4 linked regions of the Homo sapiens genome follow. The protein of the gene in region 2 interacts with the protein of the main gene of each other region in a pairwise test. Each region holds a gene or a part of one and is shown on either strand. Other genes may lie near its edges.

Evidence for each region. Proteins that work in one complex are often made in the same cells at the same time.
Region 1: the proteins of SEC23A (region 2) and CDK16 interact in binary tests that used the Homo sapiens proteins (3 or more experiments, as listed by UniProt).
Region 3: the proteins of SEC23A (region 2) and PIAS2 interact in binary tests that used the Homo sapiens proteins (3 or more experiments, as listed by UniProt).
Region 4: the proteins of SEC23A (region 2) and DNM2 interact in binary tests that used the Homo sapiens proteins (3 or more experiments, as listed by UniProt).

Annotation. Positions count from the first base shown.
Region 1 is NC_000023.11:47,220,788-47,225,180, reverse strand, and holds part of CDK16 (cyclin-dependent kinase 16), read right to left. Parts: exon of another isoform or gene 2,921-4,393; coding exon of another isoform or gene 2,839-2,920; exon of another isoform or gene 2,801-2,838; intron 2,131-2,800; exon of another isoform or gene 2,086-2,130; coding exon of another isoform or gene 1,870-2,085; intron 1,630-1,869; coding exon of another isoform or gene 1,624-1,629; coding exon 1,422-1,623; intron 797-1,421; coding exon 663-796; intron 564-662; coding exon 438-563; intron 348-437; coding exon 291-347; intron 194-290; coding exon 79-193; intron 1-78. UniProt on the Homo sapiens protein: Protein kinase that plays a role in vesicle-mediated transport processes and exocytosis. Regulates GH1 release by brain neurons. Phosphorylates NSF, and thereby regulates NSF oligomerization. Required for normal spermatogenesis.
Region 2 is NC_000014.9:39,085,282-39,090,569, forward strand, and holds part of SEC23A (protein transport protein Sec23A), read right to left. Parts: intron 1,728-5,288; coding exon 1,648-1,727; intron 626-1,647; coding exon 481-625; intron 1-480.
Region 3 is NC_000018.10:46,907,508-46,911,900, forward strand, and holds part of PIAS2 (E3 SUMO-protein ligase PIAS2), read right to left. Parts: intron 1-4,393. UniProt on the Homo sapiens protein: Functions as an E3-type small ubiquitin-like modifier (SUMO) ligase, stabilizing the interaction between UBE2I and the substrate, and as a SUMO-tethering factor.
Region 4 is NC_000019.10:10,769,186-10,773,578, reverse strand, and holds part of DNM2 (dynamin-2), read right to left. Parts: intron 1,101-4,393; coding exon 951-1,100; intron 1-950. UniProt on the Homo sapiens protein: Catalyzes the hydrolysis of GTP and utilizes this energy to mediate vesicle scission at plasma membrane during endocytosis and filament remodeling at many actin structures during organization of the actin cytoskeleton.

The DNA of each region.
Region 1 (4,393 bases), on a different chromosome or scaffold from region 2:
GTCTTTGTTCTCATTATGGAGTGTGTGCGCCAGGGGTGGGTTGGGGAAGCCTGGGGCAGATGGGATGGGGGTGTGTACCTTCCCGGATGGCGGTGCAGGGTGCCCCCTCTTCATGTTCCAGTCTGATCTCCTTGAGTGCCACAAGGTTGTCTGTGAGCTTGCTTTTGCCTTTGTAGACGGTGGCATAGGTACCCTGGAATGTGAGGAAGTGTGACAGGAGAGGTGCTATGAGATTCCAGGAGTTCCCACTGACCTTCATCCCCACCATGGGCCTCCTATTTGCCTCTCACCTCGCCCAGTTTGTCCAGCTTAATGTAGGTCTCCAGTTTCCCAAAGCCAATCTCAGACTGTGGGACAAATGAGGCAGGTTAAAGCTGGCTCAGGAGAAGGGTCTGGGAGAGAAGAAAAAGGAGAGGACGGGAACAGAAGGTGCTTACTAGGCTGACACGACGGAGGCGGCGGCTGAGGGGCTTGTCAAAGATGGGGCTATTGAGGGTCAGCTTCTCCAGGTAGCCCTCAGGCAGCCGGATGTCAGCTGGTAGTGATAGGCGCTTGTTGATGTCCTAGCAGGTAAGGCAAGAGAGAAACAGGATCATGAGCTCCACCTCCCCAGGTCCAACCCCCTTTTCCAGTTCCTCCACCATCCAGACGGGGTCAAGCACCTCAGTGGAGATCTTGCGTGGGGGATGGTTGCGCATACGCACTCTCACTGGAGACTGCACCTCATCCGAGGACGTGGCTGAAGCCTGGTCACTCTCCCCATCAGACCCCATCTTCAAGTCCTCGTGCACAATCTCTGGTGGCAGGGAGAGGGGTAGGGCAGGCCAGGTGGGGTCAGGAACCACAGGACACCCCATCCCCCACGAAACATATTCCATCATCACACATGTGTGCACGTGGCCCCCACAGGAAACCTGGAGTCCCTCGGGGAGAGGGTGATGTACCTGAGCCCAGGGAAGCTCAGGTACATCTAGGGCAGGTTGAACTGGGGGGTGGGGAAGCAAAAGTCACCTAGTGGAACCCTTCCTTCCAAGGGCAAGCTGAGCTCAGAGCCGGCAGCTAGGTGGTGGCAGGGGAAGCCAAGGGTCCTGGGAAGGCAGGCCCAGGGCAGGCAGGTACCAGAGGACTGAGGAGGCCATCATAGAGGGCAGAAGGGCAGAGGGAGCCTTGGGGCAGCTGTGACAGGCAAGGCACCTTCTGTCCCCCACCACGGGGCCTGGGCAGAAAGGCAAGAAGAGGAGCGCAGATGGACAGATAGACAGACGGTGTTGAGAGAAGATGGGAGGGAAGGGGGAGAAGAGAGCACATGGGGGGCAGAGAAAGGGCAGAAAATTTAGAGGAAAATGAGGAATGTGACCAGGAGGCAACACCTGGGAAGCAGCCTGGGGCCATATGGGAGAGGGGATAGCCAGTGGACCCACCTGGTGCAGAGCTGAGTGGGCCCCGTGCAGAACGAAGTTCCCCAGGAGCAGCACGTGTGGGGGCCTCTCCAGGGTCACTGCCGCCACCACCACCACTCTCATCCAGGCCTATCTGCTCAGGGGCACCATTGGTCTTGTCTATGCCTCGGCCACCTCGGAGTGTCATTGACAGCTGCCGTTTGATCTTCTTCATCCGATCCATGGCGATCTGAGCAAGGGACAAGGATGGAAATGGGTCTCTTATTAGCATTTGCTTGATCACCATGGGTTCCCTAAAGCCCACAGCCTAGCAGGGGGCACTGACATGAACTTGTCAGTGCTCACTCAACCACTATGGACCCCAGAGCCACTCAGGAGTTCTGGAAACCCAGCATGGATGGGGATCTTTGTCAGTACCTGCCCACCCACACAGCCAGCCCCACTGGGACCCTGCTCCTACGTAGCCCACCTGAGTTCTCAGATTTAGGTGGCTGATTGAGGGCAAGGGCCCTAACGATGGATTGTTGGGATCTAGGGGAAAAGCCCCACTGCAGGAGCAGAAGGCTCCATTGCAGATCTTCTCAGGTACAGCTGCAGTGATGGGCCCAGCCATGGGTCGGCCAGGGCGTGTGCCCAGAATTGAAGGATGGGTGACATGGTCTCGAGCACGGCCATAGAGTGGCATAGTTCCCCTAGCACCACCCTCAAAGGCCAAGGCAGACTATTCCCTGTGGCCACAGGGACCCTCTTCCTGACTTCTCTAGCACTCATCGTCATGACAACCACTGCATCATCCCATTCATCTACCCAGGTGGGGGGGGGGAGGGGAGCGTGTGTCAGGGTGTCCTGCCCAGACCCAACCACTGGGTGGGATTGTGTGGAGGGCGGGGGGGTCTCAGTGTACACCAGCTCTTCTCAGGGCTGCCAGAACGGTTTGATCAGGTTAGGACCCCTAGGGTCCAATCTAGACTTTTACAAGCCAAGTCACATTTCTCCTCTACTCAAGAATGTACATTTTTCATCACCCCAAATACACGCCCCAGTCCTCAATGTGGCCCACAGGTGTTTCTTTACCTCATTTGCCCCTATTGCCTCTTGCCCACGGCCCCCCCCCACCCCCACACCCCCCCGCCATCATTCCTAGTTGCTGTTCTGCAACCACACCCAGTAGAGTCCCACCTCGGGGCCTTTACACTGGCTGTTCCTGGTACCTGGAACACCCTTCCCCTAAATTTCGAAATGGCTCACTCCCCTCTCCCTTTGGGCCATTGCTCAAAGGTCACCTTTTTCATGAGGCCTCTGTGAATAACCCTATTTAAAATCTCAACCATCCCGAACTCCCTCACCTTGCCAGTTATCCCCCCAGCACTCATTACCTCCTCAGAAATGACACCACCTACTTATTGGTTTCTTTAGTCTTTACTGTCTATCTCCTCACCGCCACAACTAGAAGATCAGCTCCGCCAGGGTAGATTTCTGTGTTTAGGTCACGGCTATATCCTGAGGACCTGGAATAGTGACTGACACAGAGTAGATGCTCAAAAAGTGCTTATGGCAGAAATAAGTGAATCAGGGGGCTGAGGGCCTAGGACCAACCTCTGCTGAGGTGATGAGTCCCTGCTATTCATTGAACAACCCTAAACAAGGTAGCCCAGGGATGCTGGCATCGACAGGAAGATGACCTAGATGGATTGCTGAAGGGAATGGGGCCACCAAAAGGCTTAGGCCAGCCGTCTTCTGCTTCCTCTTGGGCTCTGGGCCAGCAAGGAGGGGGAAAGACCTGACCCAGGAACCATCTGGACTCACAGCAGGGCCTAAGATGGCCCTGGGCCCAAGGGAAGTAGAGCTAGATAGGAGGTCGAGGATGAGACTGGGGCTGGATTTGAGGAGAGAAATGGGTCATCTGCTACCTTGAAATCAGGTGCTTCCCCCAGCAGTTCTCGCCCCCACCTGGCTGAACTCACTATCCCCAGGAGGGGTAGGGGCCACCCTAGCAGAAAGACCTCAGATACAGGATGAGGTCCATCCATGGAGAACCCAGGATAACCACAAAACATCCTGACCTGGGAGGCTGAATACTGGGCCTAAGGCAAGGAAGGTAAAGCATGGCCAGCTCCCAAAGACAACCTTGTGTCCCCATATGGCACAGATACCCAGTTGCTTTGCATGTTGTGACAGGGAGTAGGGGAGGGGCTGGGGGAGACTGGAAGTAGGGCTGAATGGAGGATGGGGAGGAAGCCAGGAGGAGCCATGGGTCCACGACCTCTAACTGGAAACCCCAAGGGCTGGACATGCTCTGGAGTTCAGTTTTTTGGGATTTTAGGAAGATGGGGTGTAAAATCTGTATATCACATAACACTCCCAGAAAGGGGGATGGGGGTCTCAGACATGCCCCTGTGAACAGAGATAATTGAACATTTATACGCAAGGAAACTTTTAAATATCATTTCAGTTGAATGAGCTTTTTAGATTTCAAAAAAGGAGGGAGCAAGAAACTGGACATAAAACCTTACCCCAAAAAAGGCACATGTCCTGCCTGACCCTTCCTGATCCCCAAAGACATACACCCATCCTCAGACTACTCTCATACTCAAGGATACTCAACACACCAACCACTAAGGACTTGGTCATCGCACCCTATGTCCTGATCCCCATTAATACACGCTAGACCCTCAAGGAGGCCTCACTACATCTTACCTGCTATTATCTCATATACCCATCAGCATTCAAAGCCCTAACACATAACATACCGCCCTGAACTCTGTCAGCACACACTTAGCCTCCTCTAAGTAACTCTTGCCACCACATTCTTGGGCCCCTCCCTGGCCTAGCTGCTTGTTACCTTCTCCATAGTACTGACTCCCCTCATTAACGTACTGTTCCCCCTACATGATTCTGACCTCTATTAACATGCACTTGGGGTACTCTATAGCTGACCCACATTAGCACTCACTGGACCTTCTTCATGCTGCTCTGAATGCTATTAACATAAA
Region 2 (5,288 bases):
CCATCTGACTGTTCATCTATAGTCTTCGTAATATCTTTATCATAAACCGAGAAACATAAAGTGTTTCCTAGAGTTCTGTGAGCCATTCTAGCAAATTAATCAAACCCAAGAGTGTCCAATTTACAGCCAGTCTATCAGAGAAGTATAGGTGACAACCTACTATGTGACTGGCACTTAAGTGGGGGCAGTCTTGTGGGACTGAGCCCTCAATCTGTGAGATGTGATGTTATCTCCAGTTAGATAGTATCAGAATTGAACTGAATTACAGGACACCCAGGTGGTATCGAAGGCAGAACTGCTTGGTTGGTATGTGGGGGAAAACCATAGAAGTATTCTTTGTTGATGCTGAGTGAGAGAATAGGGAGGAAAAAAAGCACTTTGGTTCTTCTTATCCTTATAATTATATATACACACACACACACACACACACACACACACACACACACACTTTACATTCCAAAACAAAACCATCTTCCCTACCTCCAGCAGTCCTACAGCTATGGAAAGTGCCACCCCAGAGGAACGCAAAGGTCTCTTTCCCTGTGGTACAGGCCAAGGGTCTCGCTGGAGTTCTCCCAGAAGATCTGTGAGATTCATGTCTATTTTCTGTACTGGTTGTAAGAATCTAAGAAACAGAATTAAATAAAAAGCCATTTGTAAATGTTTATGGGTGAGAGTTCGATAAACAAATTTCACTTTCCTAAAAATAGAAAACAACACTCTGAACACACAGCAGACCAATGGTTCTCAAACTTTCGTGTATATGAGAACCAGCTGGAGGGCTTGTTTTAACACATATTGCTAGGTCCCAGTTCTAGAGTTTGTTTCGGTAGGTCTGGAGTGGAGCCGAAGAATTTGCATTTCAAACGCATTCCTAGGTGACACGTGATGATAACAGCCCCAGAAACCACATTTTGAATACAACCACAATAAACGAAACACTCAAACCAAGTACTTCAGGATTTCATCTCTCACTAGTCTAGTAAGTTTTAGGTTACTGAAATAATTATGAGAAAATACATCAACTAAATTTTAGTAATACTACCTCTGATTAGAAAGCTTAGGGGAAAAAGCTAGCAGGGCGCGGTGGCTCACACCTGTAATCCCAGCACTTTGGGAGGCCGAGGAGGGAGGATCATAAAGTCAGGAGATTGGGATGGTGAAACCCCGTCTCTACAAAAAATACAAAAATTAGCCAGGCATGGTGGTGCATGCCTGTAATCCCAGCTACTTGGGAGGCTGAGGCAGGAGAATTGTTTGAACCTGGGAGGCGGAAGTTGTAGTGAGCCAAGATCATGCCACTGCACTCCAGAAACCTTAGCGGGAAAAGCTACCTCTAAAGCTAAGAAGAAAAAATAAAAACCTTGGCTGCCCTAAAACCACACAAAAACAAGTTTTTTCCAAAGTTCAAAATAAAAAATAAGGAAAATAACAAAACTAAAGTAACTCCTTACATTGTTAAGACAAAAAACAAACCATTTTAATGACATGATTTTGACTCAATTCTTTAAAAAGTATGTTAATACAATTTACTTATATTCCTAAAAATATTTAACAATATAGTATCACTGAATGCCTATGTTCAAGGGTATGGAATGTTTAAAATAGCTACAGAAACGGTCAAATTCTCTTCATCATATTTATTACCTGTTGGAAGGAGGTGGCTGCTGTACCTGAGGACCACGTGTTGCTTGAGTAAGTGGTACTTTAGAGAGCCCCAGCATTTCCTGTAAAGAGATTACTTGTGCAATATTCATTTAATTACTTTTACAAAGATTTATCAACTATTTATCATGTATAAAATGCTGTGCTAGACATTAGAAACACAAAAATAAAAAATACAAGGTCTCCTTCCTCAGAAAACAAAGAATCCAGTGGGAGAGATTATCAAGAAAACAATAACACAAAATAATCATCATGAGAGAGAAAAGCACAAGGTGTTATATAACCAAAGAGGAGGCATATTAGCTCAAAAACACTTTATTTCTAATTAACAGTCAAAATAAATTGTTGTGTAACTTAAATGTCCATACTTCTTAATTTATATTCATTCATCCGTTTCAGCAAACTATATCATAAGCACCTGCTATGTGGCAGGAATACAATGGTAAAAACTAACTAGTCCCTTCCCTCATGGAAATTAAAATCCAGAAACATAAATTAATCAAATCAACAGATAAATAAATGTAAAATTGCAACAGTAGTAAATGTTAGGACTTGGGGAGTTATAAGGCTCACGTACTTTGTACCTATATACATCTTGATTTTCTAATGTAATTCATAACCAAACTACGAACTGCCACCTTTGTTTTGAATTTCAGATATGTGCACAATTTCTCTCTAGACAAATGAAAATAATGTTATACTAAATTTTTCTTGAATCTAGAAATGCTTAGTCATGAAGTACTGGAGTTATAAAACTGTGTAACAGAAAACTGAAGTCTAAAGATGTACAAAGATAAAATTAGTGAACTAATCCTGCAATATTTCCTATACTGTTAGCAGAAACAGCAACTCTTTACTAAGAACTTAATATGTTCCATATTCTATGCTAAAACCTTTATATATACTATTTCCTCACAAAACAATAATGAAATAGATTTCTTCTTAAATTCTACTTTATAAATGAAAATTGACAATCAGAAAGACTAAGTAATTTGTCTGAGGTTACACAATCAGTAAGTAACAAAGCAAGATTTTAAATCCAGGTTTTTCTATAAAGCTCTATAAGGGTTTACACCATATTGAGAATTTCATATTTAGTACTAATAACCTGGCAAAATAGGTAGTTTATTCCTTTCTATGAAGGATGACACAATCAGCAAAGACAAAAACCCAGGATCATACAACCAGAAGAGTTTAAGATTTGAATCCAGGACTATCTGGGGAGCAAAGGCCAGGCTCTTTTCAACTAATAATAGGGAAAGAATAGGGAAATTTAATCTAAATAGGGAAAGAAAATAAACATGTTTCAATGGAGAAAAAAAATTCAGTCTGCAGGCATTCACTTGCCTATTGAAAAAAGGAAGATGTGGCCAGGCGCAGTGAATCACAGCTGTAATCCCAGTATTTTGGGAGGCCGAGGCGGGTGGATCACCTGAGGTCAGGAGTTCAAGACCAGCCTGGCCAACATGGTGAAACCCCATGTCTACTAAAAATACAAAAATTAGGGCCAGGTGCGGTGGATCATGCCTGTAATCCCAGCACTTTGGGAGGTCAAGGTGGGCAAATCACAAGGTCAGAAGTTCAAGACCAACCTTGGCTAACATGGTGAAGCACCAACTCTACTAAAAATACAAAAATTAGTAAGGCATGGTGGTATGCTCCTGTAATCCCAGCTACTTGGGAGGCTGAGGCAAGAGAAGCGCTTGAACCCAAGAGGCAGAGGTTGCAGTGAGCTGAGATCGTGCCACCGCACTCCAGCCCGGGTGACAGAGCGAGACTCTGTCTCAGACAAACAAAAAAAAACTAGGCCGGCCTCAGTGGCTCACACCTGTAATCCCAGCACTTTGGGAGGCTGAGGCAGGGGGATCACCTGAGCTCAGGAATTCAAGCAGCCTGGCTAACATGGTGAAACCTTGTCTCTACTAAAAAATACAAAAATTGGCCAGGCGCGGTGGCTCACGCCTGTAATCCCAGCACTTTGGGAGGCCAAAGCAGGCAGATCACGAGGTCAGGAGATCAAGACCATCCTGGCCAACATGGTGAAACCCGGTCTCTACTAAAAATACAGAAAAAAAAAATTAGCCGGGTGTGGTGGCATGCGCCTGTAGTCCCAGCTACTCGGGAGGCTGAGGCAGGAGAATCGCTCGAACTAAGGAGGCGGAGATTGCAAGATCATGCCACTGCACTCCAGCCTGGGTGACAGAGCAAGACTCCGTGTCAAAAAAAAAAAAAAAAAGAAAAAAAAAGGAAGATGTTTTATGTGCTTCATATGCATTATATAAGTAAAAGGTACTCTACAATCAGAACAGTAAACTATTCTAAATAAATTCATAATTTAATAATAACATTAATAGTAGCAAATGCTTAAATGTACAATTCATTTAATTCTCATGACTACACTATAAGGTATATACTATTACTATCTCTATTTTACAATTGAAAAAAACTAAAGCACAGAGATTTCAACTGGTTCACTTTCTCTCCTGTCTCATGGAAACATGATTCTCCTCTCTAAGGTACTCCGCTTCCTGTGCTCCTGAAGGAATCCCTACTATGTCTTCCTAAACCTGACTTTCCTCATCTCACTCTTGCTTTAACTCACCCTCTTTAGTCTCTTTCCTTTCTCCTTCCTCCTAAAGTACATCTCTTTAACTCAGTTCTCTCTCAAATTCCCATGCTATCTCCTCCTTCATTACCTTCAACAAACCTCTTAAAAGAACAAACTTCAGGCCGAGCACGGTGGCTCACTCCTGTAGTCCCAGCACTCTGGGAGGCCGAGGAAGGTGGATATCCTGAGGTCAGGAGTTCAAGACCAGCCTGGCCAACATAGTGAAACCACGTCTCTACAAAAATACCAAAATTAGCTGGGCATGATGGCGGGTGCCAGTAGTCCCAGCTACTCGAGAGGCTGAGGCAGGAGAATAGCTTGAACCCGGGAGGCGGAGGTTGCAGTGAGCCAAGATTGTGCCAATGCAGTCCAGCCTGGGTGACAGAGCGAGACTCTTGTCTCAGAAGAAAAAGAACAAATTTCAACTTTCTCTACCTTCTCAAATCTTATTCACTATTCATTGACTAACGCATTCATTACTCATTATCCTCCCCATTTAAACCTGCAAATTCCCCTAGTATGTTCTCTTAGTTAACTGCAGCACCACTACCTCAGTCTGCCAAGTTTCAAATTAGACTCACCCTCAAAAATCTCTTCCTTTCTTCTTCATTTTGGTCTACCTGGAAGCCTCTAAAGTCTGATTTTACATCTGTCAACTTTATGCCAGGCTTATCTATCATCTTCTAGGGTAAATGTTCTCAACTAGGAGTTGCACCAGAATTACTTAGAAAGTTTTTTCAAAGTACCTACATGAACAATCTTATATTATATATATAAGGTATATATACCAACTATCCCCCAATACAAACAGACATTCACTTATTACTCTCTTATGGACTATCAAAATCTCTGGGCAGAAAAAAAGATGTTCATCTGAGCAGATGATCCTAGTATGCTACACATAACTCCTTTGCCTTGGAAGAGAAAGCTTCAATTTGTCCCAGTGATAAAAACCACTAAAAAACATATGTAACCATAGTTCCTACACTAAAAATCGTCCAGTCTCAAAATAACT
Region 3 (4,393 bases), on a different chromosome or scaffold from region 2:
AAAAAAAGGCAGAAACAACAGAATACATATACAGAAACAGAATACAGTTGACCTTTGAATAACAATAACATATAGTTGAATATTGAATAACAATAACATATCCAATAACAAAAACCTGTGTTAGTCAAAGGTCAACTGTATCTTGTCAACTGGTTTGAACTGTGCAGGTCCACTTATACGCATATTTTTTTTTCAACCAAATGCAGATCAAAAATATGGTATTTGCAGGACGTGAAACCCACATATACAGAGGGCCAACTTTTCCTATACATGGGTTCTGCAGGGCCAACTTCAGGACTTGAGTACACATGATTTTCCTGTTGGGAGGGTGGATCCTAGAACCAATCCCCCAGGTACACCAAGGGGCAACTGTATATATACTACACAGGTTCCATTTATATAAAGTTCAAAAACAGGCAATACTAATCTGTTAAAGTTAGGATAGTAGGTCGCTTTTGGAAGAATGAGGTGAGGTTAGCCACTGGGGAGGGGAATATTTAGAGTGCTGGTAATGTTCTCTTTCTTGACCTGCACGATTATTATTTTGAGAAAATTCATCCAGCTATAATTTCATTATCTGTGTACTTCCTATGTGTATGCTATATATCAAAAGAAGTTTGGTTTTTTATTATAAAAAATATTATCTTACACAGAGATGGGGTCTCACCATGTTGCCCAGGCTGGTCTTGAACTCCTGGCTCAAGTGATGCTCCCACCATGGCCTCCCAAAGTGATGGGATTACAGCCTTGAGCCACCTCACCAGGCAAGAAGTTTGTTTATGCTAGCAGCAGCATCATCTTGTTTTAGTTACTGTAACTTTTTAACAATTTCTGTAAAAACAGACTAACGGCCCAGAGTCCAGAACCAAAGCACAGATGAGTGATGGCATCCAAACCAGTGAAGAAAAAAATTTGCATGAAAGGTGATGGAACAATTTATTATTCTTTGAGGAAAAACCATGCATCTTGGTCACCACTTCACACTGTATACAAAATCAACTCCAGGTGGATTAAAACCTTAAATGAGAAAAGGTAAAAAAAAAACAAAAACAAAAAACAAAAAAACTACGTCTTATACTTTTACAATAATGGAAAATATCTTCGAGAACTCTGTTGAAAAATTTCTTCAACAAGATTCAAAAGCACTATCCATAAAGAAAAGCCTGATAAATGCAATCACATAAAAATTAAGAACTTCTACTCATCAAAAAACGCATAAGGCTGGATGCAGTTGCTCATGCCTATAATCCCAGCACTTTGGGAGACCAAGGTGGGCAGATCACCTGAGGTCAGGAGTTCGAGACCAGCTTGACCAACATGGTGAAACCCCGTCTCTATTAAAAATACAAATATTAGCCAGGCATGGTGGCGGGTACCTGTAATCCCAGCTACTCAGAAGTCTGAGACAGGAGAATCTCTTGAACCTTGGGGGTGGAGGGTGCAGTAAACTGAGATCACGCCACTGCACTCCAGCCAGGGCTACAGAGTGAGACTCCATCTCAAAAAATAAAAATAAAAATGATTTAAAAGTGAGCCCAATTGAAAGGAGAAATTTGCACCACATGCATCCAACTGTGAAACTATTAAAAATCAGTATGAAATAATTTTTTTAAAAAACTAGTACAAACATGGGCAAAAGACATGAATAGGAATGTGAGAAAAGGGAAGAATGGCTAATCAGTATAGTAAAAGATGCTCAAACTCATTAGCAAAGCAAATGAAAACTAAAAGGTGGTATTTTATACTCGTGGGTAAAAACTTTTTTTTTTGAAACAGGGTCTCACTCTGTTGCCCAAGCTGGCGTGCAATGGCATGATCACAGCTCACTTCCTAGCTTCAGGTGATCCTCCCATCTCAGCCTGCCAAGTAGCTGGGACTACAGGTGTGGGCCACTATGCCCAGCTAATTTTGTTTTGTTTTGGTAGAGATGGGGTTTCACCATTTTACCCAGGCTGGTCTCAAACTCCTGGTCTCAAGCCATCCACCCACCATGGCCTCCCAAAGTGCTAGGATTACAGGCGTGAGCTACCATGCCCAACCGATAAAACCTTTTGAAGTGTGACAAAAGTAGATGTTAGCAAGAAAGCTGAGTAATGAAAACTTCTGCATTGCTGGAGAGAACGAAGACTGACACCACCTTTTTTGGAAGATAATCTGACATTATCCAATATTGGTGAATATGCACACATTCTTCTTAAATACCAGCAATTCTATTCCTAGAATCTCTACAGTGAAACATACAAATATTCACACTAAGTGAGATCAACAAAGATTACAATATCAGTGCAGGTCAGGGTTTTTCTGCAAGACAAGTTTGGTGAAACTTTACAGTTTTTTTCTCTTCATTTTCAAACATTTGGATTTAAGAAATATGGATGGCCAGACACAGTAGCTCACACCTGTGATCCCAGCACTTTGGGAGGCCAAGGCGGGTGGATCACCTGAAGTCAGGAGTTCAAGACCAGCCTGGCCAACATGGTGAAAACTAATAATACAAAAAAATTAGCCGGGCATGGTGCACACCTGTAATCCCGGCTACTCGGGAGGCTGAGGCAGTAAAATTGCTTGAACCTGGGAGGAGGAGGTTGCGGTGAGTCAAGATCGCGCCACTGCACTCCAGCCTGGGCAAGAAGAGCAAAACTCCGTCTCAAAAAATAAATAAATAAATAAATAAATTTTACATATGTATATATGTTAAAAGTATAAAGACAGACCAGGAATGATGAATCCAAAATTCAGTACAATGGCTACTGTCATTGGTGAAGGTGGACATGGTTGCAGTGGATGTGATCAGGAAAGTGCATCCTGCTAAAGTTACACTAATGAATTAGTAAACTGGTTGGTAATTATATGTATGTTTGTTTACATACGCCTTACCTGTTATAATCTTTTGTACTTATCAAATAACTTAAATATTTAAAATACAAAAATTAGTATGGAATACCTAAATACAAACCCACTGTTAGAGTCACCAATTCAGGGAAGTGTCTCAAGAACTCTAGAGAAATTAGCATCAGAGAAATTCAAGGTATTTCCCCATAAATCAAGGACAGGTTGCTATTTAAAAAGAAAGAAAAATGAAAGATGATAGAAGAACTCTTATAAATTAAAGATAACTACTGAAATAAATTTTATAGAAAAGTTCAAAGACAAAATCAAAGAAACCTTTCAGAATGTAAACAAATCCCGTAGATCGTAGACTACAATTGTAGATTACAATCTTCTACAGGAGAATAACCATCAGATCTGCAATGGACCTCTGATTAGCACACCAAGTATTTTAGATTCCCACAGCAAAGTTTTCAAAATTCTGAGGAATTTATAATTCCACATGTAAACTTTCAATCAGGAACAAAGACAAGCCATTTTCAACATTCGAGAACTCAGAAAGTTTATCACCAGCATATCCTTCCAGAAACAACTATTGAAGGCTGTATTCCTGTAAAATAAAAAAGGTATCTAAAAGAGAAAAACATGGGATCCAAATAACAATAGATCTAACCCAGGAGAACAATGTGAAGTAATCCCAGGATGACAGCTGGGTAACAGGTCTACTAAGCTTCCCAAATTAGAAAAGGCAGGCCAAGACTCCGGAAAGTCTACCAAGACAAGCTGAATGGCTACAACATGAGAACCCATTATAATATTAAATTTTAAAAATAACTTCAATGAGCTTTCCTCATTCAACCAGGACTTTGTTATATTTCTTTTTTTTTTTTTTTTCCTGAGACGAAGCCTTGCTTTGTCACCCAGCCTGGAGTGCAATGACATGATCTTGGCTCACTGCAACCTCCACCTCCCGGGTTCAAGCAATTCTCCTGCCTCAGCCTCCCGAGTAGCTGGGATTACAGGTGCCCACCACCACGTCGGGCTAATTTTTGCATTTTTAGTAGAGACGGGGTTTCACCATGTTAGCCAGGCTGGTCTCTAACTCCTGACCTGAGGCGATCCGCCTGCCTGGGCCTCTCAAAGTGCTGGGCTTACAGACGTGAGCCACTGTGCCCGGCTGACTTTGTTATATTTCCTTTTTAAGGATCACAGGTTTAACAGAAGTGAAGTTTCTCTATGGCTCCACAGTACTTGGTTCTATAGTAACTAATACTCATGTCAACATACATATTTAAAAGAGTGGCTATTAGTACTCAATTTCTAGATTTTCCTGCAGAAGCACAGAAAACTTTAGAAGAGTTATAAAACATTATATAAATGCAATAAATCTTGCCAATGTAACAGTACTAACCAAAAACAAAGGCTGGGGCCGGGCTCAGCGGCTCATGCCTGTAATCCCACCACTTTGGGAGGCCAAGGGAGGGGGAGTGGATCACCGGAGGTCAGGAGTTCAAGACCAGCCTGACCAACATGGTGAAACCCTGTCTCTATTACAAATACAAAA
Region 4 (4,393 bases), on a different chromosome or scaffold from region 2:
TACTCGGGAGGCTGAGGCCAGAGAATTGCTTGAACCCGGGAGGTGAAGGTTGCATTGAGTGGAGATTGCGCCACTACACTCCAGCCTGGGCAACAGAGCGAGACTCTGTCTCAAAAAAAAAAAAAAAAATTTGGCCGGGCGCGGCGGCTCACGTCTGTAATCCCAGCATTTTGGGAGGCCAAAGTGGGCAGATCACAAGGTCGGGAGTTTGAGACAAGCCTGGCCAATATGGTGAAATCCCATCTCTACTAAAAATACAAAAAATTTGCCAGGCGTGGCGGCAGTTGCCTCTAGTCCTAGCTACTTGGGAGGCTGAGGCAGGAGAATAGCTTGAACCTGGGAGGCGGAGACTGCAGTGAGCTGAGATCACACCACTGTACTCCAGTCTGGGCGACAGAGCGAGACTCCATCTCAAAAAAAAAAAAAAAAAAATTAGCTGGGTGTAGTGGTGCATGCCTGTAATCCCAGCTACTTGGGCGGCTGAGGCACAATAATTGCTTGAACCTGGGAGGTGGAGGTTGCAGCGAGCAGAGATCACACCACTGAACCCCAGACTGGGCAACAGAGCAAGACTCTGTCTCAAAAAAAAAAAAAAAAAACCCAGGATATTTTACAGAAGACTGGTTCTGGCCTCTCTTGAGGCACCAGCAGATCTGGCTGCCTTGAGCCAAGTGGTGGCTGCCCTTGGTAAAAGGGGGAAATGGCTGCAATCCCCCACCACTCCAAACAACTTCTTGGCATGCTCTTTCTTCAAGCTGAGACAGAGGTCTGGGTACTACATACCTAGCACAAGTGGGAAGATACAGATCAAGGGGCTATGTGTGTGTGAATATCAACTGTTTGTGAATGGGCACATGATACCCATGAGTGGAAGTACACAGGCTCACCCATAGCACTGTCCATGAACGACCAGAAACGGTCAGTGATGGGTCCCCACCCGTGCTGCCTACCGTGTGGCGAGTAGACTCGAAGGTTGATGGGCACTGGGGAGATGCCTTTGTTGGTCCCCGTGACCCTGTCGGTCTCTGCTTCAATCTCCTGCCGGACTTCATCAAAGTCTGTAAACTTTTTGGACTTGCAGTGCAAAAACTCGGCATGTTCTAGAAAGGGAAGAGAGATGCTGAAAATGAGAAAGAGCTGTGGGCAGGGTGCGCATGGACTGCGGGGAGAAATGCTTTGTTGAATGAAAGTAATGACCCAGGCTGGGCACAGTAGCTCACGCCTGTAATCCCAGCACTTTGGGAGGCAGAGGTGGGCAGATCACAAGGTCAGGAGATTCAGACCATCCTCACTAACATGGTGAAACCCTGTCTCTACTAAAAATACAAAAAATTAGCCTGGCATGGTGGCACATGCCTGTAGTCTCAGCTACTCAGGAGGCTGAGGCAGGATAATTGCTTGAACCCGGGAGGCGGAGGTTGTAGTGAGCCGAGATTGCGCCACTGCACTCTAGCCTGGGAGACAGAGAAGACTCCATCTCAAAAAAATAAAAAAATAAATAAAATAAAATAAAATAAAATAAAAAAGAAAATAATGACCCAATCATCGTCACTCTAGGAATTTGGGAGTGAAAGATTCGTTCTCATGACAAGGGTCTTGGGGGAGGCGGGGGTTCCTATAGACTGAATAGACTGAGCCTCTTTCCAGATCCTGAAGATTACGTTCCCATGTGGCACTTTGCAAACTGTTAATATACGTCATGACATATTATGAATCCCCCTCCCCCAAAAATAAACAGGTAGACATAACCAATGACCAAAGTTTCTGGGATTACAGGCATATGCCTCCACGCCCAGCCATTTATTTGTTGATTGACTGATGAACAGAAGAGGAAGCACCAGGATACATCACCCAGAGAGGGTGAGTCCATTTGATTAAGGTGATGCTGCAGAGCCTCCCTTGCTGTGGGTCCCAGTCAAGGGAGTTCGATGCCCAAGTCCTTGTGGATTCATGGTCCACCAGCACATTCCAGCTCCACAAAATCCCCAGGGGTATTTCTCATGGCACTCACTTGTCCTTCTTCCCCAAGGAGCCCACAAGGTAGAGGGAAGGGGCACCCCTGCCGCCTCCTCAGAGCTGGTCTTGAGTCTTTCTTTCTCCCCCTGACTATTCAAGAGGGCCCCCTACCTAGAGACAAATCCCCCAGGAGAAATGTTTTCTGGGTATAACCCTGAGTGTATATAAGACCCGGGGGTATCTGAAAGTCACAGCAAGACTGGGATGAAGGGGAACAAAATAAGTAATTGACAAGCAGTGTGGGTCCCACCAGGAAACAAGAGAAATCCAGTCCCGAATCACAGATTGAGGACAAAGCAAATATAAGGCATGTTCATCACGGAAGGTGGCTGCCGAGTACACAGGTGTCCACTGTACAAAGCCTTGACGTTTCCAGATGTTCGAATTTTCAGAGTAAAATGTTGGGGAGGGGATATCCCCAAAGCTCAGAGATCACAGCTACTGTAGTGATGCTAAAAATAAGGGGGAAATGGCTGGGCACAGTGGCTCACGCCTATTATCCAGCACTGTGGGACGCCGAGGAGGGTGGATCACTTGAGCCCAGGAGTTCAAGACCGGCCTGGGTGACACAGTGAGACCCCGTCTCTACAGAAATTTAAAAAATTAGCCAGGCATGTTGGCGCACACCTGTAGTTCCAGCTACTTGGGAGGCTGATATGGTCTGGCTCTGTGTCCCCACCCAAATCTCATCTTGTAGCTCCCATAATTCCCTTGTGTTGTAGCAGGGACCCAGTGGGAGATCAATGAATCATGGGGGTGGGTCTTTCCCGTGCTATTCTCGTGATAGAGAATAAGTCTCACGAGATCTGATGGTTTTAAAAACAGGAGTTTCCCTGCAGAAGCTCTCTCACTCTCTTTGCCAGCTGCCATCCGTATAAGATGTGACTTGCTCCTCCTTGCCTTCTGCCATGATTGTGGGGCTTCCCCAGCCCAGCTGTGTGGAACTGTAACTCCATTAAACCTCTTTCTTTTGTAAATTGCCCGGTCTCAAATACGTCTTTATCAGCAGCATGAAAATGGATTAATATCGGCTGAAGTGGGAGGATCATTTGAGCCAGGAGCTGGAGGTTGCAGTGAGCTATGATCTATGATCACACCACTGCATTCCAGCCTGGCGACAGAGCAAGACACTGTCTCAAAAAGAAAAACAAAGAAAGAAAGGGGTAATAAGTCACACTGGCAAAGAGGTCAGAGACCTGACCCACCCCGGAGATGCGAAGATGCGCACTGCCCTGTCGTTTTTAAGAGTAAAAAAATGAAAATGGCCTCAACGTCCACCAGGAGGAGACCTGGCGACGTGAATAACACAGCCATGCCATAAACTGCCTCAAGCAAAGGCAAAAAGGGAGATGAACACCCAGCCAGGTCTAGAATCTTCAAGGCAGAAAGAAGAGTGTGAGGAGTTTCACCGTCCCATCATGGCAACCGAAGAAACTACGGCACTCTGGCCAGGCCCTGCGTGTGGTCCCGTTGCGCCTCACAAGTCCCTTGACAGGTAGGCATCTCTAAGATCCCCATTTCAAAGATGACAAAACTGAGGCCCAGAGGGGTTAAGGGCCTTGGGCCAAGTTCCGTGATGGAGCTGGGACTTGGAACTCAGAAATTCTGGCTTCAGGTAATGGCTCCTAAGCCAGATAGCCTTTGTGAGGCCACTGGAAGGAACTTCGCCTCTTTGAAATTCTCTGCAGGGTCAGGGGGAGACTCAGTGGGCTCCGATGACTGAGGACCGTGTCCAGCACAGGCACTGGCCACCCAGATCAGGGCAATGAGGACATCTGCTGGAGGATTCAGGATCCCCACCCCCACCCCCAGCCCTGCTATCAGCTGACCCAGTTCCCAAGGACAGTTACACTCCAGCCTTCTGCAGGGACAAGGGGAAACACTCGGCCGCTCTTCCTGTAGCAGCCACTAAAAATGGAACAGCTCCCAACCCCCCACAGCAAATCTCAGTTCTCTTCTGGCTCCAGGACCCCAGCTTAGCCCCAAAAGAGACCATCTCCCTTCAAAGAGTGCAGGGGGACATGGCGTGGAAGATGGGCTGGTGGCAAGGACACAGGCCCTCTCCCTAGCAGGCCTCTGTCCCACCAAGTGTGGTGTCTACAAAGCCCAGCCCTACCTCCTCCTACTCCCAGGTCTGCCTGGCTACCACCTCTCCCAGGAAGACTTCCCTGAGTGGGGCATCTTGGCCTCTTCCTCATCAGAGCCAGCTCACTTTGGATTGTATTGATGGGGCCAGGACCTGCGGCTCCAGCACCCCAGAGCCCAGCATGTACTGGCAGCACGCTGTGTGCAGTAATGAGCTCAGTCTGTAGTCAGAGGGCCTGCCCAGGTCTCAGTCTACTGATCTGTAAAATGCGCATCATAACAGGCTGTATGA